Regions from separate parts of the Homo sapiens genome. Here regions 2, 3, 4, 5 and 6 are each reported to be linked to region 1. The links are microRNA targets in miRTarBase. Many come from high-throughput screens and were not tested one by one. Region 1 holds a microRNA gene; each other region holds the end of a gene's coding sequence.
Evidence for each region. The annotated mature microRNA hsa-miR-6747-3p reads UCCUGCCUUCCUCUGCACCAG and lies in region 1 at 2,538-2,558, shown strand. An mRNA with a match to its seed (bases 2 to 7 or 8) in the 3' UTR can be bound and repressed. Matches are read on the target gene's strand: a 7mer-m8 pairs with bases 2 to 8, a 7mer-A1 pairs with bases 2 to 7 and ends in A, and an 8mer does both.

Region 1 (5,247 bases):
TGTTTATTCTTATTTTTCTTTGACCATGCTTAATACACCAGACACTAAGTTTAATTTGAAGGACTGTCCATTATTTATTTATTTATGTATTTATTTTGACAGAGTCTTGCTCTGTCACCCAGGCTGGAGTGCAGTGGCACGATCTTGGCTCATTGCAACCTCCACCTCCCAGGTTCAAGCGATTCTCCTGCCTCAGCCTCCCAAGTAGCTGGGATTACAGGCATGCGCCACCAAACCCGTCTAATTTTGTATTTTTAGCAGAGATGGGGTTTTGCCATGTTGGTCAGACTGGTCTTGATCTCCTGAGGACCTCAGGTGATCCACCCGCCTCGGCCTCCCAAGTGCTGGGATTGCGGGGGTGAGCCACCACACCCAGCCAGGACTGTCCATTATTCTAAATGCGTTTGAATATTTTCTTTGAATGTTCTTTACTTTCTGAAGTTTGATGGATGGGTGGGTGTGGGGGGTGTGTGTGTGTGTGTGCGTGTGTGTATAGTATGGCCAATATAGATAGTAAATACCTATAGTGTTTAGATTTTATTTGGCAAAAAAGTCCTCGATAGCCCTCTGTGGGTCTCAATCTTTTTTTTTTTTTGAGACGAAGTCTCGCTCTTGTCCCCCAGGCTGGAGTGCGATGGCGCGATCTCGGCTCACTGCAACTTCTGCCTCCCGGGTTCAAGTGATTCTCTTGCCTCAGCCTCCTGAGTAGCTGGGATTACGGGCATGTGCAACCATGCCTGGCTGATTTTTGTATTTTTAGGAGAGGCGGGGTTTCACCATGTTTGCCAGGCTGGTCTCGAACTCCTGACCTCAGGTTATCTGCCCGCCTCGGCCTCCCAAAGTGCTGGGATTATAGGCGTGAGCCACCGCTCCTGGCCGACGTTTGAAATTTAAAAGATTGGAAACAGTAGATCTGAAATAGTTTTGTAAAGGAGCAAGACAATTATTACTCCTACTCCTAAATGGAGGATGGACCCAAGCATCCATCCATTAAACTGGACTACACTGAAAAAAAAGATTAGAAAAAGAAATGGAGGCCAGGTGTGGTGGCTCACGGGTAATCCCAGCACTTTAGGAGGCCAGGGCAGGAGGATTGCTTGAGCATGCGAGTTCAAGATAAGCCTGGGCAACATAGTGAGACCCCATCTCTATTAAAATTTTTTTTTTTTTTTTTTTTTTTTGAGACAGAGTCTCACTCTGTCACCCAAGCTGGAGTGCAGTGGCGTGATCTCGGTTCACTGCAACCTCCACCTCCTGGGTTTAAGTGAGTCTCCTGCCTCAGCCTCTGGAGTAGCTGGGACTACAGGCACGTGCCACCACGCCCAGCTAATTTTTTTTTTTTTGAGACAGAGTCACTCTGTCACCCAGGCTGGAATGCAGTGCCGCGATCTCCGCTCACTGCAAGCTCCGCCTCCCGGGTTCACGCCATTCTCCTGCCTTAGCGTCCCGAGTAGCTGGGACTACAGCTGCCCGCCATCACGCCCAGCTAATTTTTTTATTTTTAGGAGAGATGGGGGTTCACCGTGTTAGCCAGGATGGTCTCGATCTCCTGACCTCGTGATCCGCCCGCCTCGGAGATCCCAGCAGTTTGGGAGGCCGAGGTGGGCGGATCACTTGAGGTCAGAGTTCGAGAACAGCCTGGCCAACAGGGCGAAACCCCATCTCTACTAAAAGTACAAAAATTAGCTGGGTGTGGTGGCAGGCACCTGTAGTCCCAGCTACTCAGAAGGCTAAGGCATGGGAGGCTGAGGCACGAGAATCACTTGAACCCAGGAGATGGAGGCTGCAGTGAGCTGAGATCACGCCATTGCACCCCAGCCTGAGCGATAGAGTGAGACTCTGTCTCAAAAAAAAAAAAAATTGAAAAAAATGAAGAAATGGGAAGTAATCCAGGGAAGGATGATGTTGTATGAAGCTATTGTCTATAGGGTTTGAAAAGAAGGTGAGCACTGGGACTTAGGTAGAGCAAGGACTCTTGCTGTGAACAGAACTCTTCAGGGCCTTTCCACTGACTTTGTTTACACCCTTATGTCCTGGCAGGTTCTAGAGCCTTCTTTCCGCCAGGCCTTTCCCAATACCAACCGCTGGTTCCTCACCTGCATTAACCAGCCCCAGTTCCGGGCTGTCTTGGGCGAAGTGAAACTGTGTGAGAAGATGGCCCAGTTTGATGGTGAGTCTGAGGAGACTGGGAGGCATATGGCCAGGATCAGGGTCTGGTTTGCTCTGCATCAACCCCTTGATTTCCTGTCTTGCTTTTGGGTTATGGGGACCTGCAGAATGTAGGGTGTCAATGTGGTAGCTAATATTATGTGCAGTTTCGTGTACACTCATACCCTGACTAATTTGTATTACTATATAGATTTGCGATATAAAGTATTTGTTGCTGAGTGTGTTGTTGCTGGAGGACACACAGTGAACTGATGAGCAGTCTGGGGCCTAAGTTCCTTACTTGTCCCATTCGTCAGTTTCCTCTGTTACCTTGCTTGCTCTGTGTGGTTTTGGAGGGGTGTGGAAAGAGGCAGAACATTCGTTCACTTTCCTGCCTTCCTCTGCACCAGCTAAAAAGTTTGCAGAGACCCAACCTAAAAAGGACACACCACGGAAAGAGAAGGGTTCACGGGAAGAGAAGCAGAAGCCCCAGGCTGAGCGGAAGGAGGAGAAAAAGGCGGCTGCCCCTGCTCCTGAGGAGGAGATGGATGAATGTGAGCAGGCGCTGGCTGCTGAGCCCAAGGCCAAGGACCCCTTCGCTCACCTGCCCAAGAGGTAAGGATATTGGAGGGTGGAGGGTGTGGGACCAAAGAAGGCCTGTTCTCACCTCTGTATGTCCCCCCTCACACACAGCTAGAGCCAGAATTTTAGGTTGTCCATATAAAGTTAAAGGTATATTTTAGTTGCAAATAAAGCAGCTTTCTGGCTGATAATCAGGAATTGGGCAAATTTTGATTGTGGAGAGCAAGTTTCAAGTACAGCCAGTACTGGGGAAGATTGAACTCCTATTCCAACAAAGACAGGAACAGATTTTGATATAGTGGTAAGTTGGTTTTGAGCAAGCTCATTTGACCATTTGAGAGCTCTGAGAACAAATACAGGGAGAGGCGTGGGGAGGAAGAAAGTGCAGAGAGCCTTGCGGTGCGCCACGCGCCCGGCTGTGCGGAGATAGTGGATGCCAGAGCAGGGTCCTTTGAATTGTTTTGTTTTCTGTTTTGCTGAATCAGACTGTACAAAAATTGCTCACTAAGAAAAAGGATGAAGATCATAGCTAAGTAGTGTCTGTCTAGTTCATTGTTCCACAACCGAGTAAAGTCCCCAAGTAGAAGAAAGTAGGTGTCCTCTGTATCCCTTTTTCAGTTAAAGGTAGGGCTTCTTGGAAGAAATAATATAGTAAAAACGAGATTTTTGGCATGAAAAATGTAGGACGCTGAGTGCTTGCCCAGTTCTCTGGGATGGAGTCTTTCTTCCATCACTGCTCCAAGTCATTTTATTGGGAGTTCAAGCAGTTTGAGAAATATATATTCTGTGGTCACTTTGCTTTGGAACTCCTCTTTCTCTGTACTTTTTCCTCCCACTCACCCTGTCATTTCCAAAGCCGTTCATCTTTTTACTGCTTGGTCTGCTAGGGTTTACATTTCACCCTCTCCCATCTTGTAATGGCTTGGATACCGGGTGAACCAGCCTAAAGGAGCACCCACTGGTAGGGACACAGTAGCTGTGCATAGAATTGTGAATTACAAGCATTGCACTAATAGATGGGAGCAACTTGGGGTATAGCTGAAAGTTCTTACTCCCGGGTATTTTGTACAAGACCAGGAAGGCTCCATCCAGACACAGGCACTCTTTAAAGATGTATTTTTTGAACTAGTGATTTGCCTTGAATTTAGCACAGGTGCAGGTCAAGAGTGAGCAGGATTTTTGGTGTGTGTAAATAGGTCATGATAATTAACCCAAATTACATATTGTGTTGTAACTCAGACGTTGTTAATTATTAGCTAGAGATTTTCACATATAGTAGGTCAGTACTCTGGGCAGGAAATAAATGAGGCAGTAGTAAACTTAAAATCTTTATTTAATAAACTTTACATTTTCTTAACATGGTTTTGGGAATGTTTATTAATGTCTATTTATTGGGTTACCATGATGCCCTACAGGGCTGCCAGAAATGCTTTCCCCAAGGTTTTTTTTTTTGGAAACAGGGTTTTACTTTGTTGTCCAATCTGGAGTGCAGTAGCGTGATCACGGCTCACTGCAGTCTTGACCTCCTGTACTCAAGCGATCCTCCCACCTCAGCCTCTGGAGTAGCTGGGACAAAGGCACACACCACCACACCCAGCTAATTTTTTATTATTTGTAGAGACTAGGTCTCACTATGTTGCCCAGGCTGGTCACAAACTCCTGGGCTCAAGTGATCCTTGGCCTCTCAAAGTGCTGGAATTACAGGTGTGAGCCACTGTACCTGGCTCCTTTTTGTGTTTTTTGTTTTTTTTTGGTTTGTTTGTTTGGAGACAGAGTCTCACTCTGTCACCCAGGCTGGAGTGCAGTGGTGTGATCTCAGCTCACTGCAACCTCCGCCTCCCCAGTTCAAGCGATTCTCCTGCCTCAGCCTCCCGAGTAGCTGGGACTACAATGACAGGCGCGTGACACCACGGCTGGCAAATTTTTTGTATTTTTAGTAGAGACGGAGTTTCACCGTGTTAGCTAGGATGGTCTCAATCTCTTGACCTCGTGATCCGCCCACCTTGGCCTCTCAAAGTGGTGGGATTACAGGTGTGAGCTACCGTGCCTGGCCCCCTTTTTTTTTTTTTTTTTTTTTTTTGAGATGGAGTCTGGCTCTGTCGCCCAGGCTGGGATGTAGTGGTGCAATCTTGGCTCACTGCAACCTCCACCTGCCGGGTTCAAGCAGTTCTGCTTCAGCCTCTTGAGTAGCTGGGACTACAGGCACGCACCACCATGCCCAGCTAATTTTTTGTATTTTTAGCAGAGACAGGGTTTCACCATGCTGGGCAGGCTGGTCTCGAACTCCTGACCTCGTGATCCGCCCGTCTCCGCCTCCCAAAGTGCTGGGATTACAGATATGAGCCACTGCTCCCGGCCTTTTTTTTTTTTTTTGTGAGACAGAGTCTCACTCTGTTGCCCAGGTTGAAGTGCAGTGGTGTGATCTCGGCTTACTGCAGTCTCCGCCTCCTGGGTTGAAGCAATTCTCCTGCCTCAGCCTCCCGAGTAGCTGGGGATTGCAGGTGCGTGCCACCATGC
Region 2 (5,247 bases), not on the chromosome of region 1:
CTCTCTTTTTAATTTCAGATCTTCAGCTCTGTAAATGCCATCCTTGATCTTTCTGTTTTTGGAAAAGAAGTTACTCTAGAAACTCTGGTAAAAGACCTGAAAAAAAAAATCCCGAGTTTAAGCTTCAGTCCTTTGAAACCCAATGGAAGAATCTCCGTGGAAGGATCATTTCTGGCTGTCAAGAGGCTCAGAGAATCTTTGCTAGCAAGAGCATGTTCTCTCTTAGAAAAAGACAGAAATTTTACCAGTGAGGAGAGAAAGTGGAATAGACAAAATCCCCAGAGGAATCTACAGAGAAGTAATAACTCTTTGGCATCAGTCAGGACCTTAGTACCTGAGACTGCTAGAAGTGGAGAAATGCTTGTGCTTGACACAGATGTTTTTCTTTACCTGAAACACAAGTGTGGATCTTATGAAAGCACACTGAAAAAATTCCACATTCTGAGTCAGGAGAAAGTGGATGGTGAAATCACCACAATTTGTCTAAAAAGCATTCAAGTTGGTTCTCAGCCAAACAATGCAAAACATGTAAAAGAGCTCATTGAGGAATGGTCACATGCTCTTTACTTAAAGCTTAGAAAAGAGACATTTATTTTGGAAGGAAAGGAAAATAGAGAGAAAAGAATGATCAAAAGGGCATGTGAACAATTAAGTTCGAGATACCTTGAAGTCCTGATTAACCTTTATAGGACACACATTGACATTATAGGATCTTCTTCTGACACTTACCTGTTTAAAAAAGGGGTCATGAAATTAATAGGGCAAAAGGTTAGTTAATAAAATCTCAGCAATATAGTCATAAGGGCTGCTTTCTCTTGCTGAGCAGTGACCATTGCCATGAATGAGGCTAGCTTTACACACCGTATCTCATGAATCCTTATAGTCATCCTTCTTTGTCAGTGTTGACTATCCTCATGTTACAGCGGAAGAAACTAGGATTTGGAGAAGTTAAAACACTTTTCTGAAGTTATCCAGTTGACAAAGAATGAGGCTGTGGCTTAGCCCAGTCTATCTGATTACACAGATAATATCTAAGGAATAAAACTTTGAAAAAAACTCACCAAACTTTTTTTTTTTTTTTTTTGAGATGGAGTCTCGCTCTGTTGTCCAGGCTGGAGTGCAGTGGCGTGATCTCGGCTCACTGCAACGTCCACCTCCTGGGTTCACACCATTCTCCTGCCTCAACCTCTGGAGTAGCTGGGACTACAGGTGCCCACCACCACGCCCGGCTAATCTTTTTGTATTTTTTTAGTAGAGATGGGGTTTCACCGTGTTAGTCAGGATGGTCTCCATCTCCTGACCTTGTGATCCACCCGCCTCGGCCTCCCAAAGTGCTGGGATTACAGGCGTGAGCCACTGCGCCCAGCAAACTCACCAAACTTTGAAGGAATCTTACTTTCTCTGTAACTCCAAATTATTAGAGAATAATAATTATTAAGAAGTAGCCTTAACATATGAGAAATTTGAAAGGTGATTATTATGCCATGGGCAATTTCTTAACATTTACAGTTTGTGTTTACTCCGTGTAGAATTAGAATACTGGCAAAAATCACTGGGGAAACTACTTAGATGGAAAGCATATCTTATGCAGGTAATCATTATTTGACTAAATTCTATTGTTTCAAGGCTGCTGGCCACATAGGATGTTTTTACTATTTTTTTAGCCTAAGTGCTTACATAAAATGGTGATTCTTTTATAATTGTGCAAGTTGATAATATTAATTGAGTCATTCTTGTCACATCCAACTAAAACAGACTCAAGAAGCTAGGGGGAAAAAGTACTTGGGACACATAATATTGCTCCAAGAATGTAATTCTCTGTGAGCCTGGCTACTGAAACTGCTTGCTGTAACCTGAGACCAGTTTTGTCTATAGCTGCTGAGATAACTTGCTGTAACTCTAGGACTAATTTTACCTATGGCCATTGCCCACCAGTTGGAGCTTGCCAGCTCCCCAGGGCTTTACTAATACCAATGAACTTTCTCTTAAGATCACAAGTTGGCCGGGCGTGGTGACTCATACCTGTAATCCCAGCACTTTGGGAGGCCGAGGCGGGTGGATCACAAGGTCAGGAGATTGAGACCATCCTGGCTAACATGGTAAAACCCCATCTCTACTAAAAATACAAAAATTAGCCGGGCATGGTGGTGGGCGCCTGTAGTCCCACCTACTCGGGAGGCTAGAGGCTGAGGCAGGAGAATGGCGTGAACCCGGGAGGTGGAGCTTGCAGTGAGCCAAGACTGCACTACTGCACTCCAGCCTGGGTGACAGAGCGAGACTCCGTCTCAAAAAAAAAAAAAAAAAAAAAAGAAAGACCACAAGTAACATTCTTAGTTTTAAATAAAACCCTCAACCTTCTCTTTGTTTGTTGGACATACTAAAGATCACCTAGAATTGAAATTCTTTCTTCTCAAAACATTAAATTTAGTTTTGTGTCTACATTTTCATTTTGACTTTGACATGCATGGTGTCAGAAGTGGGATACAAAGCTGACTCACCTCATGGAGAATCATTGGCCTTTGGAGTTATGGCATGAGGTACCCATGTTGGGGCCCTTTGAACCCCCTACACCCCCACCACTTTCACAGGTAATCCTTTCTCCCTCCAGTAAGTATCTCTTGGACAGAACTCTCAGATATGGTTCGAGTTCTGTTTTATTTGGGATATGATTAGGGAGAGGTCTTTCCCCCTCTTGTTTGGTAGATCTGTTGGGTAGAATTATTTTCCCCCTGTTGACCTCAGCTGCGAGGTTTGGACCTTGAGGCTTGGATGAGGGAATTTTTCCCTTTCTTTGGAGAAGGCTTATCATTCTTACTGGTAAGCATGTATTTTATTTTCTGTCCTGTCTTGTATTTATTTGGCCTTTGTGTATTCAGTGCTTGCATTTACTTGGCTTTTGCATAGTTGACATTAAATCAGAGCACCCACGAAATGAGCTCTCAAAGTTCAAAGGCATGCCAGAATATTTTCTGGAACTCCAGCTAGTAACATATTCAAACATTACAGGGATCATTTAGTCTGTTTTTCTTAAAACTGAACTAAAAGATGGAGGCTATAAAATCATACACTCCAAATAAGATATGCATATTTCATTGATATCTTGAGGCTAAAAAAAAATAAAAACAAAAACAAAACACATTCAGGATACAAATATTGCCTTGTTAAAAAATACTGTCTCAAAGGTGGCTGAAACTTTCTTTTCTAGACCTTTCCCCTCCCCTTCTTACAGTATCCCCTCTTTATCCTTCTCTAAACAGCTATTCTAACATACTACTTAAATAAAAACACTTGAAAACCAGCAGATATAAAACAAAGTCATTTTGACCTTCCTACTGTTTTTTTTTTAAAGCAAAGATTAAATTCCCATGTAAAACCTTCCTCCCTATACAAAAAAGAATAGCAGCATTTTTATCTTCAATGACAAAGAATTGAGTCCAAGAAAATACTGTATAAACCTTGTTAAAAATCACTCTTGTCTTTTGGTCCTACTCACATAATTCAGCACACTTTCACAGTTAACTATTTTTTGTTCAATTTAGTGCACTGGTGAGTGACTCAAACTGCTTTATCCCAAATTTGATTTACAGCCTTTATAAGATTGCCTATTAAAAAAGCTTAAAGCTTATCCTTAGCCCATTTTGTCAGAAAAATAATTTGCATCTAATCATTTTTATAAACTGGTGAATTTACGTGTTTTACTATATCATGACTAAAATTCTAAAATAAAAGTTTTAATATCTTTATGTATATGTGTTTAAATGTGTTTATGTGTATGTACATATATTATGTTGAATGTTGTATCTACATAAAAGCTGGTGTAGTCAGCCAGAAATCCCTTAACAAATTTTATTCTGATTGGTTTAAATAAATGAGCACTCATATAAAATGTATAGTAATTAACCCCCAGTTTTTTTTAGTTGATGTGACTTAAGTAAATCTTTGATAAATTAATTGGTTTTAAAATTGTGGATAAAATAAAATTAGAAATGTCTTCAAAATTGTCAGCAGACATTTTTGTCTGGGTTTACTGGTCAGACAGTTTTATATTTGCCTCTGCTAGATGTTTTAAAGTCATAAAGCCTAAAACAAAATGATCTTTGTTTATATAGTTTTTAAATAAATATGATTATATTGTTGTTTTAATAAAAATAGCTGTAACTTTTCTGAGTTAGCAACAGGGTGGCTGTTTTTAACTTTAAGGTTCTTACTTAAACCTTAATATCAAGATAAATACTTCATGGTAACAGTCTATAAAACTGATTAATAAAAACAATGACTAGTTCTATCTCAATTTTCATAAATCTAGGAATAATTGAGAAATAAATCTTATAAATGAAATAAACATTTATAAATGAGCTTTTCATGTAATTTTAAAATCTTAAAATTATGTTAAATGATACTCATTAAATGTCTGGATCATATCCAAATTAAAAAAAAATTGCTAAATACATAGACATTTGTTCTTGGCTTCTTAGGTTTTATAAAAGGACTAAAAGTATTTCGGTCTATTAATCAAAATATAAATTTAGGAAAATACAATTGATGTATTAAAAATTATATGGTAAATTTTTATCCTAAGATAAAATAATTGGTTGTTAAAAATTTTATTTTTTATTTTTATTTTTTGAGACCGAGTTTTGCTCTTATTGCCCAGGCTAGAGTGCAATGGTGCAGTTCCAGCTCACTGCAACCTCTGCCTCTTGGGTTCAAGTAATTCTCCTGCCTCAGCCTCCCAAGTAGCTGGGATTACAGGCACCTGCCACCACACCAGGCTAATACATTTTTTTTTTTTTTTTTGAGACGGGGTCTCACTCTGTCACCCAGGCTGGAGTACAATGGCGCGATCTTGGCTCACTGCAACCTCTGCCTCCCGGGTTCCAGCGATTCTCCTACCTCAGTCTCCCTAGTAGCTGGGATTACAGGCATGCACCACCATGCCTGGCTAATTGTTGTACTTTTAGTAGAGGGGGGTTTCACCATGCTGGCCAGGCAGGTCTCGAACTCCTGACCTCAGGTGATCCACCCACCTTGGCCTCCCATCTTCCTGGAACTTTTTGAAACAGCAAGAACTCAAGGTGCAACAGTTACAGGTGGATACTTTTTCATAGCACATACCCCCAAAAACCTGGGGATCCTGGGTTACATAATGAGCTCCTTCTTGGATTATTTGCAAGAGTCTTCTAAGTGGGCCTTAATTCACCCTGTACACCACTACCAAATTCATGTGTCTGAAGTGATTCCTGGTAT
Region 3 (5,247 bases), not on the chromosome of region 1:
AAAAAAAAGCCTTTTATGAAATGATGGTAATAGAGGATAGGCTTCCCCCAACCCCTCTTCCCTTTCATGTCCTTATTGGCTAAAACAAAACGTCGTTGAGTCCTGAAATCCCAAACTGGGGGCCTTGAACCCCAGGCAAAGGCCATATAGGCTGGCTCCGCGCGTTTGCAACCCAACCCCGCGGGCAGCCGGCAGGGGTCAGGCGAGCTCCATGCGACACTCGAGCTGCGTCTGGCAAGCCAGTGCTGCGCTCGAAGAAGCGCGCTGCCTCGAGGGAGAGGGTCAGAGGAAGGACTCTGGACCTGCCCTAGGCTGGGGGTCGCGACAGATGGCCACCTGGGTCTTAGGTCCCAGCTCCCACCCGGCAGGCAGGGACTGGGAACCTCTCTCCAGACCGCGCGGTGTGTTGACACCAGGTCTAGTCCCATTCCACCGAGGGCAACTCACCTTACCGGTCTTCTGAAAGGGGGCCCTGCGCGAAACCTTGCCTCCTGCACTCGGTTGTGCAAAGATCAAGGATCTCAGACTTGAGAGGGTTACATGGGCAAGGGATTGTTATCACTAGATTATATGGATTTAGAATTAGGACTTAGGCTCCTGGGGAAGCCTGCTTTAGGACTCAGATGGTGGTTGTAGAAGATTGCCTTGCAGACTCACCCTTGGGGATGTGATTAGGTCTGGGGCAGGATCCAGGAACCTGCATTTATTCTAGGTTGCCAAATTTTGATAAGGGGTGTGCTCAGACCACGCTTAAAAAACATCCCAAGGTTCTGTTGCCCTCCCACAGGGCAGGCAGCATCAACAGCAGCGAGCTGCCCTGATAGTGTGACCTGCCTAAAATTGGAGTGGAGTAAGAGCCAGCCGCAGGAAGGAGCAGTGCTGGCAGCTGGTGCTGCAGATTTGCCCAATGCATGTAGGCAACCAAACACGCCCACAAGAACCAAAGTAGACGTGCCCCTTGTTCTTCCATTTACCACTCAGGCTGCATGGTTCATTTTGTTTTTTTTGCTTTTAATTTTAAAACATTTATTTTGCTTCACATATAGAACCAGGAAAGAAATCACCTCCCCAAGTCGACAGGGCTTAGACAGACTGGATGAAGCGCCCCATTTTGCCACATTGTCTCCAGGCTGGTCTCTCCAGCCACACATTAAGCCAGCAAGATGGCCCTTTTAGTCACATTCATCTCCAACATAGCAGGGAGCAAGACAAGGAAGTGAAAGGGACTGCCTATGAGCCCAGGATCTTGCCCTCAGGATGGGACGGAACTGGGGTTGGTGAGGAGCCAACCCCACCTGTCTCAAGCCTCAGGCTAGGAACAGCACTTGGCTGCAGGCCAGGACCAAGAGCCAGGATAGGTGCTGCTGGGCTGAGAACCAAGAAAACCAGTTCCCTCTTTTTGGAACTCGGAAGGGGTGGAACAACCCAGACCCATTCCCTTCTCAGATCACACTCTATCCAGACTGCTGTACAGTGCGGCCCAAAGCTGGAATTCTCAGAACACCCCCATTTTTGCCATGAGCAGATCTGGATTCTAGTTCGTTTTGACCTTGAGAAAGTCAAATTGTGTTGATCTTTTTAAAAACAAAGGGGCGGTTTTCAGAAATCTATAAGCTTCCTTCTGGCTGTAAGAACTTAGCACTCTGGGCTCCCTGCTTCCTTTAAAACTCACTGGGAGATCTGGGAAAGGGAGGCTGAGACCTCTCTCCTAAGGGCTGATTTTACCTTCCTGTCCCTCATGAAAGAACGGGCTGGAGGACAGGAATAGGACCTGGGCCAGCCACTCTCCAAGGACACAAGCTGGATCCAGACAGGAAGCAGCGGCAAGTAGATTGCTTCTCCCCAGATAGGTTTGTTTCACAATATATTTAATACAAAATGGCAGCAGCCACTGTGCAGTTATAACAAAATTAGCCATAGGGTATCTGGAGAAATGTACACAGGCAGCCTCAGCTGGAGTCATGCGAGCCAACTCCGGCCTGCTCGGGTAGGGCCTGTGCCTGCTGCCCAGTCAGCTGTGGGTGGTCACACGGCCAGGACTGGATGGTGCCCGTGGCAGGGCGGTGCACAAGGGCTCAGAGGTGCTGTACAGGAGGAGCCAGTCTTCCAACAGTACACAAAAGCACGCTGTCCTCTGCTCTGCCCCCCCTGCGGACTCAGCAGCATGTGTGTTCATTTATTTTATTATTATTTTTTGAGACAGAGTCTCACTCTGTTGCCCAGGCTGGAGTGCAATGGCGCGATCTCAGCTCCTGCAACCTCTGCCTCCTGCGTTCAAGCGATTCTCCTGCCTCAGTCTTCTGTGTAACTGGGATTACAGGCGCGTGCCACCAGGCCTGGCTAATTTTTGTATTTTTAGTAGAGACGAGGTTTCACCATGTTGGTCGTCAGGCTGGTCTCGAACTCCTGACCTTGTGATCTGCCCGCCTCGGCCTCCCAAAGTGCTGGGATTACAGACGTTGAGCCACCATGCCTGGCCTATTATTTTTTGAGACAGAGTCTCGCTCTGTCGTCCAAGCTGGAGTGCAGTGGTGTGATCTTGGCTCACTGCAAACTCTGCCTCCCGGGTTCAAGCAATTCTCTGCCTCAGCCTCCTGAGTAGCTGGGATTACAGGAGCCTGCCACCACACCTGGCTAATTTTTGTATTTTTAGTAGAGACGAGGTTTTACCATCTTGGCCAGGCTGGTCTTGAACTCCTGACCTCGTGATCCACCTGCCTCGGCCTCCCAAAGTGTTGGGATTACAGGCATGAGTCACTGTGCCCAGCCTATTTTTCTTTCCTTTTTTGAGACAGAGTCTCACTCTATGGCCCAGGCTGGACTGCAGCGGTGTCATATTGGCTCATTGCAACCTCCACCTCCCGGGTTCAAGTGATTCTCCTGCCTCAGCCTCCTGAGTAGCTGGGATTACAGACGTGCACCACCACCCCTGGCTAATTTTTGTATTTTTAGTAGAGATGGGGTTTCACCACGTTGGACAGGCTGGTCTTGAACTCCTGACTGCAAGTGATCCACCTGCCTTGGCCTCCCAAAGTGCTGGGATTACAGGCACACACCACCTTGCCTGGCCAAGCAAGCATATGTGTTCATAAGCTGCTAGGAGCTGATACCTCTAGAAACTGGAAGAAACAAGGGCCAGGGTTTTTTTGTTTTGTTTTGTTTTTTGAAGAGTTTTGCTCTTGTCGCCCAGGCTGGAGTGCAATGGCACAAGCTCGGCTCACTGCAACGTCCGCCTCCTGGGTTCAAGTAATTCTCCTGCCTCAGCCTCCTGAAGTAGCTGGGATTACAGGTGCCCACCACCATGCCCAACTAATTTTTTTCTATTTTTAGTTGAGGCGAGGTTTCCACATGTTGGCCAGGCTGGTCTTGAACTCCTGACCTCAGGTGATCCACCCATCTCAGCCTCCTGAAGTGCTGGGATTACAAGCATGAGCCACCACGCCTGGCTAGGCTAGGTTTATTATTTTTTTCCCCCAGAAAAGAGACTGAAAGTTGAATTTGCCTTATCCAAAATGCTTGGAACCACAAGTGTTTCAGATTTCAGGATTAGGGATACTTAACCTGTACCAAGTTCCAATTCATGGAGAGGGGCCATGATTCTGCTGTGCTTGAGCAGAGAGATCTCCTTGCCAGAGCCTCACCCAAGAGAAAGAGGTGGGTACCTGCATGCCCCCAGGTGCCTACCCTGGGAGGTGGGCACCTGCATGCCCCCAGGTGCCTACCCTGGGAGGTGGGCTCAGAAGTTAGAGAGCAAGGGCACAGAGTCACCAAAACCTGTCCCAACAATCCCCAGACAATATGCTTCCTGCTGAGTCCATTTTAAATCACACAACACTAGCCGTGGCACAGGCCCGGCTGCGAGGCCCATGATGCTTGGGAGCTGTTGTGGAGAACTCAACCTCATCCAGAGGCCAGAGGGCTGACAAGAGCAGCTGGGCAGGAGGGCCTGCTGTGGGCAGGGTGGGAAAGCCGCCACATCTCTACTTCCCAAGAAAGGCCACTAGGTGCAGGAAAAGGGGGCGAAGGGTCTCAGGACTAGTGAAAGTCTGCATTGAAGGCTCTGCCGATGACCAGCCGCCTCACCTCGCTGGTCCCAGCCCCTATCTCATACAGCTTGGCATCTCGAAGAAAGCGGCCCATGGGAAAGTCATTGATGTAGCCATTGCCACCTGCAACCAGGGTTTGGGCAGAGAAGAAAGGAAGTGATTGACAAAACAAAGAAAGCAAACAGAATGCCAAGTATATAGAAACAGGCCACAGGAGGAGAGGGTGATTAAAGAAAAGCAGCAAAAGGTAGCAAGAGGGAGGGGTGTGGGGAATACACTAGTCCTTCCTTATCCTTGGAGGATACATTCCAAGACCCCAGTGGATGCCTGAAACCGTAGATAGTACCGAACCCCATATATATGTTGTTTTTTTCCCTATACATACATACTTATGAGAAAGTTTAATTTATGAGCTAGGCATAGTAACAGATCAACAATAATAACAAATACTAAAATAGAACTATTATGACATGCCAGCATCACTACTCTTGCAATCTGGGGCCACTGAGCAAAATAAGAGTTACTTGAACACAGGCACTCTGATATCAGGACAGCTGATTGGATACCCTAGGTGACTACTAACGGGCAGGTAGCCCACATAGCATAGATAGGCTGCACAAAGGGACGATTCACGTACCAAACATGACAGAGCAGCATGGCACAACACTTCAAGCTATTCAGGATGGTGTGGATTTGAAACTTATGAACTATTTCTAGAAATTTCCATTTAGCTTTTTTTTTTTTTTTTTTGGAGTCATGCTCTGTGGCCTAGGCTGGAGTGCAGTGGCATGATATTGGCTCTCTGCAACCTCCGCATCCAAGGTTCAAGTGATTCTCCTGCCTCAGCCTCCTGAGTAGCTGGGATTACAGGCGCGCACCACTGCACCCAGCTAATTTTTGTATTTTTAGTAGAGATGGGGTTTCACCACGTTGGTCAGGCTGGTCTCGAACTCCTGACCTCAGGTGATCCACCTGCCTCGGCCTCCCAAAGTGCTGGGATTACAGGTGTGAGCCACCGTGCCCGGCCTTTTTTTTTTTTTTTTTTTCCGAGACGGAGTTTCACTCTTGTCACTCAGGCTGGAGTGCAATGGCGCGATCTCCGGTCACTGCAACCTCCGCCTCCTGGGTTCAAGAGATTCTCCAGCCTCAGCCTTCCAAATAGCTGGGATTACAGGCTCCTGCCACCACACTTGGCTAATTT
Region 4 (5,247 bases), not on the chromosome of region 1:
CCACAAACTCTTGAGAGAAAACGGCATGTGGAAAATTTGTTTCAGCAAAAGGCAATTTGGCACGTATTCGTAGAGAATGGGATTAGATTTATTAAACGGGGAACCCCCAACTCCATCTGGTTCTCTCTGCATCAGCACTGGGGAGGGCTATGAGGAGAAAGAGCTAGGGATTATTTTTTGGCTTTCATGGATTTCTTCCTCAGGGATCAGATATAAAATTTAGACTGACCTTCGTTTCAGAAATTGTAAGCTGGACACCATTGGCTTCCTGATGGTTTGTGATCTCTTCAGTCACCTCCATAATGGAGTGACCAGCTCTCTTTAGCTTCTTAGAGATATGTTACTGTTGGCCGGGTGCAGTGGCTCACACCTGTAATTCCAGCACTTTGGGAGGTCAAGGTGGGCAGATCACAAGGTCAGGAGATCGAGACCATCCTGGCTAACATGGTGAAACCCCGCCTCTACTAAAAAAAAAAAAAATACAAAAAATTAGCCAGGCTTGGTGGTGGGTGCCTGTAGTCCCAGCTACTCAGGAGGCTGAGGCAGGAGAATGACCTGAACCTGGGAGGTGGAGCTTGCAGTGGGCCGAGATTGTGCCACTGCGCTCCAGCCTGGGCGACGGAGCCAGACTCCGTCTCAAAAAAAAAAAAAAAAGAAAGAAATATATTACTGTTTTGTGTGTGTGTGTGTGTTTTTTTTGTTTTTTTTTTTTTTTTTTTTTTTTTTTACAGTGACAGTGAATCCTAAACCTGAATGGCGCTCATGTTTTCCAAGAGAAGCAGCCCCTGAGGGAGTCTGCTGAGGCTGCCAACAGAGGATGAAGAGGATACAAATTTAATTAATTTCAAATCAACATAGACACAAGAACCTTTTGCTGTTTCTTCCAACGCCCACTCTTCCTAATGATGGCATCACTTGCACTTGGAAGAATGTGCAATTGAGAAGTACTAGGAAAAGGCCTGGCTGCCATCCATCGCTGCCTCTGAGGGTGGAGAAGGAGGCGGGTGATGTGCTCACTTCTGATCAACATGTGTTGCCTCCTCTCAGCCAACTTCTAGCTCACTGAACTCACTCTGGTCATGATAAATGTTCGTCACCTTTCTGCTTCATTCCTTAGGGCCTAAATCAGGAAGCTGTTTTATCGATGGTTTCCTTTTGGGTCAGTAACCAGCTTTGGATAATTTCCTCTGATTATTCAAGTCGTGGGACAGGTAAACTACATTCAGCAGGAACTTTTCTCGAGGAGTGTTATGTCATGGAAAAGACACCAAACACAGCAAGTATTTTAATGAATACACCATCCCAGGGGGTCAGTAAGCTCTGCCTGCCAAGAAGACACAGTGAGAGGGGTCCACAGTCCTGATGAGGTGGCGTTTGGTAACTTGTAGACCCTAGCATGGCCAGGTCTGGTCACCCTTAAGAACTTCTCAGAGAAACTAGGAATCTTCAGTGAAAGAACTAATGTTCTCCTCAGCTGAAATTCCCTTGCTTGTCAGCATTTCTGCAAAGCTCACACTTGTTTCACCATACCTCCCTTGGATGTGACATGTAGGTAGGAAGTATGTGCAGGTGGGAGTCATCTGTCAGCCTTCTATGTTTCAGAGATCCTGAAGGTGGTTTGAAACAAACAGAAGAGGAGCAGGAAATATCCGTGCCTGTGGCAGATCTCACTCATCATGCTTAGCATTCTCTCCCGCCAAGCTGGGATAAGCCTCATGTCCTAACACAGCACAACAGGAGGTCTCTGTCAGTCCATCAGAGATGACATTCTATGTGATATTTTTGACATCCTTGTGCTAAAAGCAATGGCACAAAATGGAAAAGGGCCTATTGACCACACCTACTCCAGTAAAATTGTTCTTCATTTATTCCTTAATTTTCTAAATCTGACCCCTTTAAAGCAATCTAGCAAATTGAGAATCCTCAGCTCTCCTTGGATACCTGATATTTTATTTCAAGAAAGAGACAAAGAAGGAAAATTTTATTTATTTTACTACCCACATATAAACCGAAGGGAGATGGGACTACCCAAACATTTGCTGCTCAATTTTGTGTCTTGTGCTTGAAAGTCTGCCCTAATGCATAACAAAAACTACTTGTCTCCTACCTTTTGGGATCCCTTTAACAAGTATTTGCCTTCTGAACTACGTGGATAATTTCAAAGGCAGAGTTCCAGACCAGAGAGGTCTTTCCATACAATGAAAGCTATAACTAGCTGGTTGTGTTTAACCACTGCTATCACGCTATCCTGGGACTGCATAGAACTTTGACAAAAGACAGACTTCATGGTACACAACTTCAACAGATTTTCTGTCATATTCTCACCAGCACATCTGAATGAGGCTTTGTGTTTTCCTTGCTCTCTTGCATGTTCCTTTTCAACTCATGGCCCACAGTGACTCTCAGATATTTATGCCAAAATTGCATACAATTGTTTTCTGAATCATAACTTGTCTATTTTTCTGCCTATGTGTGCTACTTTCAGTTTGTTTCTCATCAACATTTTGACTCTCAGAAGAGCCTCCATTTGCCCCTTTCTCTCTTTAGGTATCTAAGATCTTTGAACACCTGGGCCTTTACATTTGATCCAACCCTATCAAATAATGAACTTCTCAGAGAGGCATCTGGGGTCCTGGAACTTCATGTTGATGAAGTCATATTATATAATATGATAAAAATATTCTCATGCAGTATTTTAAATAATTTCAAATTCTAGAAGAAGCAAATTTCAGCGACATGTCATTGAGTTTTTATTTGGTAAAGCTATAATTGTGCAGTGTACAAAGCACTTTTTAAAAAGATAGTTTATTCTGTCAGGGTATATGAAGTTAGTATACAGCCAGAACAGCCAAGCCTCAATTCTTGTACCTTGTGTCTTTTTATTACTGTTTAATCAATAGATATCATATGTTTATGACAGTTTCAAGAATTGTTTTTAAACCCAAACTTAATTTTATGTTTCAGACTATTGTTAAAAAAACAAAACAAAAACCAAAAAAACCCTCACTAATTTGCCCTAATTGGATAGGGCAATCAGAACAAAATCTGACTTTCGAATATTTAAAAGATATGTAAGTTTGATTGCATTTTCGTACATTTTAAGCAAACTAGGTTAACAACAACATAGCCTAGTCAAACTTCTCAGGAAACTTGTTTTAATAAATATGTAAAAATACCCATTCATGACTCTTGACCCAATGGTGTGACTCCTCCCTCTGGGAAGGGCTTTGTTACCCAATGCAAGACCACAGCCTGGATCCACCTTGATGTAGGTGGCTCCTGGATAACCCACATCAAACAAATGTGATAAAGATGAGTAAAACTGGTCTTGGGAAAATAATTTCATAGTTTTTTTTTCTCCTAGTTATGCTGTATAATACAGGAGAACCAAAAGCTGTAAAATTATTTTATTTTATTTTTTAAAGACAGGGTCTCACTATGTTGCCCAGGCTGGTTTCAAACTCCTGGGCTCAAGCAGTCCTCCTGTCTCAGCCTCCCAAAGTGCTGGGATTACAGGCATGAGCCACTGAGCCCGACCAGCTGTAAAATTATTATATTCATTTTCACTATGTGCTACTTCTTCTCACCTGACTTTTTTTTTTTTTTTTTGAGATGGAGTCTCACTCTGTCACCCAGGTTAGAGTGCAGTGTCACGATCTCGGCTCACTGCAACCTCCGCCTCCCAGGTTCAAGCAATTCTCTTGCCTCAGCCTCCCAAGCAACTGAGATTACAGGCCTGTGTCACTATGCCCAGCTAATTTTTGTATTTTTAGTAGAGATGGGGTTTTCACCATGTTGGTCAGGCTGGTCTCAAACTCCTGACCTCAAGTGATCCACCAGCCTCGGCCTCCCAAAGTGCTGGATTACAATTGTGAGCCACTGTGTCTGGCCACACACTGACTTTCACTGTAATATCTGGATGTTTTATGTAACATATCTGGGCAATAGGGCTTATGGCAGAATTGGCCCTCGTGGTGTAGGCCTTCCAAGTTCCAAGTCTCATTTTTAGTATTCCTCCGTTCCAACCCCTGGATCCACCAGTTCCAACAGCCTGGATCCACCTTGATATTGACAGCCAGGCAGATGCTTCTGCTGATCACCGCAGCTCTAGCAATGGAAATGGATATGTTAAGAAAATACTTGTCTATTCTTTTATTTTGGTGGTTTAAACTATTAATTCACACCATCTCTGAAAAAAGGCCTTATGTTGACTAAAGAAAACATAGGCTTTAGTTTCAGCTTCTGTCAGAATTAGTACCAATTCTGAATCTGGTGGAGTGATAAGACATGGTTTCATGCTGGGAAGACACTGCTGAAATCCTCCTTGTGGGAGAACATGGAAATTTTATACTGAATTAAATTAACGCATGTGACTTTTCACATTCAGAGACATTCAGGATGAATTCTGGGGTTTCCATTTAATAGCTATAACAGGCAGTCCAGAACAACTTCACATATAGCAGCATTTCTGCTATGTGACAATGACCAAAAGAGTTCCTGTATATTAGTGTCTAGTGGAATATTTCAAATTGCAGAACCCAGACAACCAATTGCCTGAATTATTATTATTTTTTGTTTTTAGCAACTCTTTGGCTTTATCTTGATACTGTCTTGTCTGGCACCAAAGTTTTATTTCCTTCTTAGTCCTCTTGGGGATAGTTTTTGGGTGTTTTTTTTTATTTTTCTTTTTTTGAGACGGGGTCTCATGCTGATGCCCAGGCTGGAGTGCAATGGTGTGATTATGGCTCACTGCAGCCTCAACTTCCCAGGCTCAGGTGATTCTATTACCTCAGCCTCCCAAGTAGCTGGGACTACTGGTGTGCACTACTAGGACTGGCTAATTTTTTGTATCTTTTGTACAGATAGGGTTTCACCGTGTTGCTCAGGCTGGTTTTGAACTTCTAGGTTCAAGCAATCCTCCCACCACAGCCTCCAAAAGTCCTGGGATTACAGGTGTGAGCCACCATAACTGGCTGGAATTATTTGTACCTGGACCTTGTGTTTTGTTTTTTTGCCCTACTATCTTTTCTAAATAACATATCATGTTCCTGAGATAGCAGTATATACAATTATGTAAAATAGAGCTTTATATGAACTCTGTACATGCTCTAAGCTCTTTTTGAATGATATTTTAAGAAGTTTCTAAACCAAAGTGCTTAAGAAAACATGAAGATGTTAATTTCATGAAGACTGTACAAGTTTAGAAGTACAATGTAGACCTGTTTAAGACAAAGGTGGATGGGCTTT
Region 5 (4,000 bases), not on the chromosome of region 1:
AATGTTTTTGCATCTATACAGGAATGACCCTGTTATTTTGCTATTTTTATAACATCACGTGTTTTGGAGCATTTATGGCCTTGGATGGTAAAAGAGAAGTAGTCTGCCTATGCTGGTTGAAAAAGGCTGACCCAAAATGGCCCTCATTTAAAAAGTTCTGCTGTTTCCCATTTGGTTCTGTCCCAGATGAACATGGAACTGATATCCATCCAATAAGTTTGTTTTTTAGAGACTATTTTGGCCCCTTTCTCACAAGGAGTGAGTCCAAGTATTTTGTAGTCTTTATATATGTTTTGTACATCATAAGCAGTATATATGGGTGTTTCCATGTGCAGGAAGGTTTAGACCTTCGAAATCTGGCAAGTGACGATTCCTACATCACACCATATTTTAACGTAGAGGAGAATTATTTTTCAGATTATGGTCCCAGGGTTATGGTTATTGTTACTAAAAAAGTTGACTACTGGGATAAAGATGTTAGGCAAAAACTGGAAAACTGTACTAAAATTTTTGAAAAAAATGTCTATGTAGATAAAAATCTTACAGAGTTTTGGTTAGATGCATATGTGCAATATTTAAAAGGTAACAGCCAAGATCCTAATGAGAAGAATACTTTTATGAACAATATTCCTGATTTTTTAAGCAATTTTCCAAATTTTCAGCATGATATTAATATTTCTTCATCAAATGAAATCATTTCTTCCCGGGGCTTCATTCAGACAACAGATGTTTCTTCCTCAGCCAAAAAGAAAATATTGTTATTCTAATTACGACGCATAGCTGAAGACTGTCAAATTCCCCTAATGGTGTATAACCAGGCATTTATATATTTTGATCAGTATGCTGCAATATTAGAAGACACTGTTAGAAATGTATTGGTTGCATCAGCAGCTATGTTCATTGTTTCCTTATTGTTAATCCCTTATCCATTGTGTTCCTTGTGGGTGACTTTTGCTATTGGTTCTGTGATTGTAGGGGTAACGGGTTTCATGGCATTCTGGAAAGTCAATCTTGATTCCATATCCATGATTAATCTTGTCATTTGTATAGGGTTTTCTTTCGATTTTTCTGTACACATTTCCTATGCATTTGTTTCTAGTTCTCAACCCTCAGTAAACCAAAAATCAGTTGAGGCATTGTATCTTCTAGGCTACCCAGTGTTACAAAGTGCAATTTCAACAATAATAGGGGTGTGTGTTTTAGCTGCAGCGAAAGCATACATCTTCAGAACATTTTTTAAGATTATGTTTCTTGTTATGATATTTGGGGCAGCTCATGGCCTAATTTTTATTCCAGTATTCTTAACCTTTTTTGGAAGGTTTATTTGAATATCCACTAACAAGTCAAAGACCAATTCTAGAATTCCTGATTGCCCTATTCCAATCTGATTTTTTTAAATGCACTATTAAGAATAGTCAACAAACTACTGGGAGGCCAAGGTGGGTGGATCACCTGAGGTCAAGAATTCGAGACCAGCCTGGCCAACATGGTGAAACCTCGACACTACTGAAAATACAAAAATTATCCAGGCATGGTGGCGTGCACCTATAATCCCAGCTACCTGGGAGGCTGAGGCAGGAGAATCGCTTGAACCTGGGAGATGGAGGTTGCAGTGAGCTGGAGTGCACCAGGCACTCCAGCCTGGGTGACAAGAATGAGACTCCGTCTCAGAAAAAAAAAAAAAAGTCAACAAACCAAAAACAAGGGCATGTTTCCTTGACTTGGAAATCCCATTTTAAATTATTATTTAAAATATACTGATAAAAATTAATTAGTCTTATGTTAAAATATCTTCACTAAATTAGGAAGTGTTATCTTTCTTACAGTCTTTACAATCAAGTACAAGGTACAACTTTTCTGTTATTTTTTCCCTTTATATTTATGCCTGAAATTCAACTATTGTATGTATTGTTCATACTATAAATGGAATATTATTTTCATTGCACTTGCTACATGCATTCATATGTGAAAATGCATCTTATCATTTATTTTCCCATTCAGGGGCTTTTCTATGCATTTTGTTAATGGTATATTTCGATAAGAAGTTTTTAAAGTTTATAAATCCAATTTATCATATTTTTTTCATGGTTAGTGCCTTCTTATCCTAAGAAATATTTTGACTACTCCAAGGTTACAATTAAAGTCATCTCTGTTTTCTCCTCTAAGCTAATAGTTTTGATCTTACATTTAGGCCTGTGATCCATACGCATGTATTTGTTGGGCAGTATCGATAGAGGTCCATTCCCTTTTCATAAAAGCTGCCCATTTGTCTCAGCATCATTTGTGAAAAGACTGTCATTCAGGATAGGATTAACTTGGCATCTATATAAAAAAAAAATCAGTTGACAATATATGTGTGGTTCTAATTCTGTGCCATCGATCTGTTTGTCTGCTCTAAGGCCAATACCACCACACAGCCTTCATTACTGAAGCTTTTTATTAATTACTGAAATTAGGCTGTGTATGTTGTCCACTTTTATTTTTATTAATCTTTCTGATTTCAAAGTTTATCTTTGTTACGTTCTTTTTTTTTTTTTTTTTTTTTTTGAGACAGAGTCTCACCCTGTCACTAAGGCTGGAGTGCAGTGGTGCGATCATAGCTCACTGCACCTAAAACTCCTGGGCTCATGTGATCCTCCTGCCTCAGCCTCTGAGTAGCTGGGACTACAGTCATGCCATTACATCTGACTAATTTTTTGTTTTAATTTTTTTTTAAGAGACAGGGTCTTTCTGCATTGGCCAGGCTGGTCTTGAACTCTTGGCCTCAAGCAATTCTTCCGCCTCAGCCTCCAAAACTGCTGGGATTACAGGTGTGAGCCACCATACCAACACTTGGTTACTTTTTTATCTTAAACTCTATAAACCAACATTGCTTTTTTTAAAGAAGGTATTCATCATCATAAAACTATACTGTAACAAAGCAATTCACTTTTACCCTGGAACTTGTTGGTTTTGGGCCTTGAATTTAACTCATCACACCAACCAATGGGTTGGGAAAAGTGAAAAACAGCAACAGTGTAGAAGTTGTATTAATGATTAGAAACGCTGGCTATTTAAATGTGACCTTGCCTAAAGGCTTTAGCCATGTTTTTGCTGTTTTGCAATCAGTGGCTCCAGCTCCTTAGTTATCTCTCCTAGACGTCAATTCCAAATTAGTTTCTTTTCCTCACCAAAAATATTTGGGGTGATGTCAGCATAAACGGGGTAGAATGTAGCTCCAAGAGCCCATTTCATCACAAAAATAAAAAAATTGAAAAATGCAACAACTGTTAGAAAAGACTCTAATTGAACTCTGAAAACGGTCCAAGGTTTACACCAACCAAGTGGACACCAAATCAGAAAAAAAGCAACTTAAAAATGGTAGGAAAATTTTGTGGCGTTTTTATTTGCCCTTGTCTCACACCCCCCTCCCTGGCTTGATAGTGATGGTGGTCCTAAGAAGGTAGCCTAGGCCAGGCAGGGTGGCTCAGGCCTGTAATCCCAACACTTTGGGAGGTCGAAGAGGGGGGTGGATCACCTGAGGTCAGGAGTTCGAGACCAGCTTGCCAACATGGTGAAACCCCATCTCTACTAAAAATACAAAAATTAGCCAGGTGTGGTGGCACGCGCACCTGTAATTGCAGCTACTCGGAGGCTGAAGCAGGAGAATTGCTTGAGACCCGGGAGGCAGAGGTTGCAGAGAGCTGAGATCGCGCTACTGCACTCCAGCCTGGGTGACAGAGCAAGACTCGGTCTCAAAAAAAAAAAAAAAAAAAAAAAAGGTAGCCTACCTACCTTTTTTCATTCCTACCACGTGTGGGACCCAGGTTCCTACTTCCAGAGGGAGAAAAGACCTCATTCACAAAGAGTTTTTCTGTTTAAACATGTCTACGAGCTATCGGAAGACTGACACAAAGCACTTATCCTTGTTTCACCTTCCCCAGAACTCACTCATGGTGAAAAGGGAGCAAGAATTTCCTTAAAACATTGTAAGCCAAATAAACAGCCCACAAGCATCAGG
Region 6 (5,247 bases), not on the chromosome of region 1:
ATAGGTAAGTTTGACAAATGGCACAGGTTTTTTTTTAACTTAGTTAACTCTCCAATATTATGTAAAAGAGTGTGTTAGTCAGCTTGGGCTGTCAGGACAAAATATCACAGACTGAGTGGCTTAAACAACAGAAAGTCACTTTCTCACAGTTGTGGAGGCTGAAGTCCAACATCAAGGTGCTGGCAACACGGATTTCTGGGGAGGCTTTTCTTCCTGGCATATAGATGGTCACCTTCTTGCTGTGTCCTCACATGGCCTTTCATGGAGTGAGAGCTCTTTGGTGTATCTTCTTATAAGGACACCATTTCTGTCAGATGAGGGCCCCACCCTTATGGTTTCATTTAACCTTAATTGCCTCCCTAAAGGTCTCATCTCCAAGTACCATCACATTGGGGATTAGGGCTTCAACATATAAATTTGGAGGGTGGCGGGGGGGGATGCAATTCAGTCCATAACAAAAAAAGCATGAGTATTATTAAGTACAAAAAAATTAGAGAGCTTTATAGAAAATATGAGGCATTTTATGTAGCTGGAGTGTGAGTGCTATCAGTTATTTTGAGTTAGAGCAATGTGCATCTACTAAGAAGTGGTATGGATAAGATTTTTTTGGAGTGACCCAGGGTTAAACTGTACTACAAGAATGTATTGCTCAGGAACTAGGTTATTTAGGTTACTTATTTATACAAACCTATTCAAAAATAATTTAGGAAAGAACTATCCCAGTTATCCCATACTTGCAAATTCTCAATATGTGTGCCTCTGCATGCTACACATGTCATCTTAGGCCTTTATAGTATAAAGGCTGATAGTTGAAATGGCAGCTGCTGTGCTTTTGTTAATTTCAAAGCTGCCAAAACAGTTGTGAGATAGACTCACAAGAATTTACTGATTAATACAATTTTTAAAGTTTTCAGATTTTTACAGTTACTTCAGACTTTTTATCTTTCTGCAGTGAGCATGCATCATTACTTTTGCATCCTGAGAACAAGCATAAGTGTGTTTTTGGAGAGAACTCCAGGGACAAATAATATACCACTGTTATTCTCACCTATATGTCAAGTTTGATACATTACCAAACAATTCTAGCCTTCTGCTTATAAGTATATAGAATTTTTATTTACCTTATCTATGGATCAGGATCTCAGCAGAGGCAGTGATGTATCAGAATCACCTTCGGGATTCCTCTACTGCCTCCTCTTTCTAATCCCCAGATTCTGATATGCATCCTTGTCCTACAGCGAGGCAGCATGGCATGAGGTCAGAACACCAGTTCTGGAGCCAGACTGTCTAGGTTCACAGCCTGCCATTTACCGGCCATGTGACTTTGGCAAGTTTCTTAGTCTCTCTTGCCTCACTTTCCTCATATGTAAAATGGGAATAATAATAGTGCCTACCTCAGAAGGTTGATGTGAGGAATGAAGGTATTGATACATGTAAACTTAGAGCAGTGTGGGTACAAAATAAACATGATGCAAGTGTTCAATCACTGTTTTTGGGAGAATGCCATATTCTTTAAGCCGTTAAAGAAGAAAAAATGATTAAGAATAATTTCAAAGTAATGCATGTTTCAAGGGCTAATGCCAGGTTGCTCCCAGAGTGGTCTCTCCCAGTGTCTAGAAATTTTAACATCTTATGAAAATGATATATATGGTCAAAAATGTATTTAACCTTTCCCTTGGCTGCCTTCCAGGGCCAGAGGAAGATCTTCCAAGGAAGATGGAATACTTGGAATTTGTTTGTCATGCACCTTCTGAGTATTTCAAGTCACGGTCATCACCATTTCCCACAGTTCCCACCAGACCAGAGAAGGGCTACATATGGACTCATGTTGGGCCTACTCCTGCAATAACAATTAAGGAATCAGTTGCCAACCATTTGTAGTTCACAAATTAAAACTGGGTTTCCAGGCCTGGTGTGGTGGCTCACGCCTGTAGCCCCAGCTATTGCACCACTGCTCTCCAAGCTGGGCAATGGAGTCAGATTCTCTTTCTTAAAAAACCACAAAAAAACTGGATTTCCAGTTCTCTAATATTCTTAGTACCACAAGATATGTCATAGGTATCTTTAAATGAAATTCTTAGCTGGAAAAGTGACTAAAAAGTTTTTCTCCTGCTACCTAGTAATAAACAAATCATTGTTTATTACTGGTCACTTAGAAAATTAAAAGGGATAGGGCCAGGCACAGTGGCTTATGCCTGTAATTGCAGCACTTTTAGAGGCCGAGGCAGGCGGATCACCTGAGGTCGGGAAGTGGATCGCCTGAGGTCAGGAGTTCGAGACCAGCCTGGCCAACATGGCGAAACCCCGTCGCTACTAAAAATACAAAAATTAGCCAGGTGTGGTGGCATGTGCCTGTAATCCCAGCTATTTGGGAGGCTGAGGCAGGAGAATCGCCTAAACCCAGGAGGTGGAGGTTGTAGTGAGCCAAGATTGCACCGCTGTGCTCCAGCCTGGGCAACAGAGTGAGACTCTTGTCTCGGAAAAAAAAAAAAAAAAAAAAGGCTGGGCACAGTGGCTCACGCCTTTAATCCCAGCACTTTGGGAGGCTGAGGCAGATGGATCGCCTGAGGTTGGGAGTTCGAGACCAGCCTGGCCAGCATGGTGAAACCCTGTCTCTACTAAAAATACAAAAATTAGCCAGGTGTGGTGGCGCACACCTGTAGTCCCAGCTACTCGGGAGGCTGAGGCAGGAGAATTGGTTGAACCCAGGAGGCGGAGGTTGCAGTGAGCAGAGATCGTGCCACTGCACTCCAGCCTGGGTGGACAGAGCAAGACTCCGTCTCAAAGAAACAAACAAAAAATTAAAAGGGATAGAATATAATGAAATATATTTTGAACTTAAATTATATTCTATATGTGTATCTTCCTAGGCAAAAGCTGTAATTTCCAGAGAGACCATTAGGAACAGGTAGTATCTATTTTTCTCCATTATTTATTTCTAGAAACTCATAAAATGGATTGTATTTTTCTATAAGAACAAAATATTAATTAAGGTATAGATGACTGACCAAGGGCTTAATCAAATAAAATGACTAACAGCATCTATCATAAAGCCACACAAGCCTTATGTTCTCATCTCAAAAATGCTGTGACAGCTTTTTGGCTGCTTTAACCATAAGAAAAATGATTGGTGGATGATTTTATTAGCCCAGGCTTTTAAAAACTTTCATCTAGGCCACGTGCGGTGGCTCATGCCTGTAATCCCGGCACTTTGGGAGGCCTGAGTGGATGGATCACTTGAGGTCAGGAGTTCAGGACCAGCCTGGCCAACATGATGAAACCCTGTCTCTACTAAATATACAAAAATTAGTTGGGTGTTATGGTGCATGCCTGTAATCCCAGCTACTCGGGAGGCTGAGGCAGGAGAATTGCTTGAACTCGGGAGGTGGAGATTGCAGTAAGCCGAGATCGTGCCACTGCACTCCAGCCTGGGTGATAGAGCAAGACTGTCTCAAAAAAGAAAAAAAAGAAAAAATTTTAATTTAATCCTTCTGTAGAAACAGGCATTCAGAACCATTCCATTGATCTTAATAAAGCTGCTCTTTACTGTTTCTAGTCAAAAATGAGACTTCGATCAAACCATAAGATTTTATACTGCAGATAGTCAGCTTCACCAAAGCCGCAGAGGAAACATGTCGAGATCAGGCTTCCTGCTTGATAGTCTCTTGACTACCATTAAAACGAATATTGGGAGGTCATGAAAGTCATTGGTAGGCCATTAGCATTGATATCTTTAAAACATCTACCCTAAACCATCTGCTATGGACCCATAATAAGAGGCCTGTTGTATATGAAATTGTCTAGAATTCAGGTGCAGGTCTTTGCCGGTTAAGTAAGGGAGCAACACGTAAAATGGGAGAGGAGTGGGGTGTACTCACTTGCCTCCTCTTTTGTCCTGATTTAACCAGCATTTTTCAACCCTGGGAAAATTTGCAGAATCTAAGTTGATTGTAATGATTTTGAGCTGCAGCAGCTTTAACTCTTACCCTTTTTCCACATAGTTATGGTGTTTGAGTTGGAAAGAAACAACTATAGGTAGCTACACGTACATAATTATCTCTTTATTCACAAAGGGTATAGTAAAATTGATTGTAAATAACTTTCTAAGTGCCAATATTCAAAACTTTTGGATTAAAATGTATTTTTCACCGTGCATTTACTTTGGATGTATTTATTTCATTTAAACAATTTAAATGGGGCTCTTTAACCAAAAATGGTATTTAAAACCAAAACAGTATCGTACTTAGAATTTGGAGTAGAGGCCGGGCACAGTGGCTCACGCCTGTAATCCCAGCACTTTGGAAGGCTGAGGCAGGCGGATCACCTGAGGTCAGGAGTTCGAGACCAGCCTGGTCAACATGAAACCCCGTCTCTACTAAAAATACAAAAATTAGCTGGGCGTGGTGGCGTGCGCCTATAATCCCAGCTAGTCTACTCGGGAGGCTGAGGCAGGAGAATCGCTGGAACTCAGGAGGCAGAGACTGCAGTGAGCCGAGATCGCGCCACTGCACTCCAGTCTGGGTGACGGCATGACTCCATCTCCAAAAAAAAAAAAAAAAGATTTTGGAGTAGATTCATCATTAATAAGTAACAGATTTTAGGAAAATCAAAAAATGGCTAATAAAATGAACACAATGTAAAACATTTATTAAAATGTAGACTTTTAAAAATCTATAAATTGATCATCTGTTTATAAATTGGCAGATGGTTGTGTACCATCTTTTAAAATAAAGATTGAATTTCACCCAGTGTGATGGTTCCCATTGCTTATATTTCTCCTGCTGAGGCCGGACCTGATATGGCCCTGGTCTGTGTTCCCAGCCTTGTTTCCTCATTACCACTAAAATCTTTCCCCTGTATGCCCGCCCAATTTTTCTGGCTCTGAGTCCTTGTTCATACTGTTCTCTCCAATTCTACCTTCCAAAGGCCTTTCTTAACACCTTCGGATTCTTTCTTTGAGAACTTTCCAGATTCCCATGCCTTTTTGGAATCAATCTCTATCCTATTGTCATCACATTTAAGTTTCTACTTCCATCATCCTCACTCCTATCCCTTTGGTCCTGGGATGACAGGGATGCTGTGTTTTATTTACTCATCTTTGTAACTTCCACATAACCTAACCCCGGTTCTTGCTTATGGGAGATGCTGATTGTAGGGTCTGAGTTAGATACTGTTAACTAAAATGCTTGTTGATATTTTAGTTATTAATTCATATTAACTTTGGCTGAAACTTTTAAATTCTATTGT

Region 2: miRTarBase lists RBM43 as a target of hsa-miR-6747-3p. Seed matches in the 3' UTR shown: 8mer at 2,190-2,197.
Region 3: miRTarBase lists IVD as a target of hsa-miR-6747-3p. Seed matches in the 3' UTR shown: 8mer at 3,254-3,261, 7mer-m8 at 3,015-3,021, 8mer at 2,879-2,886, 7mer-m8 at 2,714-2,720 and 8mer at 2,286-2,293.
Region 4: the mRNA of TMEM154 is a reported target of hsa-miR-6747-3p. The part of its 3' UTR that is shown has no 7-base or 8-base seed match.
Region 5: the mRNA of PTCHD3 is a reported target of hsa-miR-6747-3p. Seed matches in the 3' UTR shown: 8mer at 1,573-1,580.
Region 6: miRTarBase lists GATAD1 as a target of hsa-miR-6747-3p. Seed matches in the 3' UTR shown: 7mer-m8 at 2,223-2,229, 8mer at 2,380-2,387, 8mer at 2,685-2,692, 8mer at 3,358-3,365, 7mer-m8 at 4,310-4,316 and 8mer at 4,447-4,454.

What each region holds. Positions count from the first base shown.
Region 1 is chr11:62,564,322-62,569,568 of GRCh38, reverse strand. MIR6747 (microRNA 6747) reads left to right here and starts at 2,498; the gene lies at 2,498-2,558. EEF1G (eukaryotic translation elongation factor 1 gamma) reads left to right here. Exons shown (of 10, transcript NM_001404.5): 6 at 2,041-2,170; 7 at 2,559-2,763.
Region 2 is chr2:151,246,436-151,251,682 of GRCh38, reverse strand. RBM43 (RNA binding motif protein 43) reads left to right here. Exons shown (of 4, transcript NM_198557.3): 4 at 19-3,743. The coding sequence ends at 777. Among named protein-coding and RNA genes, the nearest start is that of RBM43, 13 kb to the left of the region's middle.
Region 3 is chr15:40,417,052-40,422,298 of GRCh38, reverse strand. IVD (isovaleryl-CoA dehydrogenase) reads right to left here. Exons shown (of 12, transcript NM_002225.5): 12 at 991-4,169. The coding sequence ends at 4,036. Among named protein-coding and RNA genes, the nearest start is that of IVD, 14 kb to the right of the region's middle.
Region 4 is chr4:152,624,046-152,629,292 of GRCh38, reverse strand. TMEM154 (transmembrane protein 154) reads left to right here. Exons shown (of 7, transcript NM_152680.3): 7 at 732-5,247. The coding sequence ends at 747. Among named protein-coding and RNA genes, the nearest start is that of TMEM154, 53 kb to the left of the region's middle.
Region 5 is chr10:27,395,061-27,399,060 of GRCh38, reverse strand. It overlaps PTCHD3 (patched domain containing 3 (gene/pseudogene)), which reads left to right. Exons shown (of 4, transcript NM_001034842.5): 4 at 1-1,940. The coding sequence ends at 767. Among named protein-coding and RNA genes, the nearest start is that of PTCHD3, 17 kb to the left of the region's middle.
Region 6 is chr7:92,454,682-92,459,928 of GRCh38, forward strand. It overlaps GATAD1 (GATA zinc finger domain containing 1), which reads left to right. Exons shown (of 5, transcript NM_021167.5): 4 at 1-4; 5 at 1,691-5,247. The coding sequence ends at 1,881. Among named protein-coding and RNA genes, the nearest start is that of GATAD1, 9.8 kb to the left of the region's middle.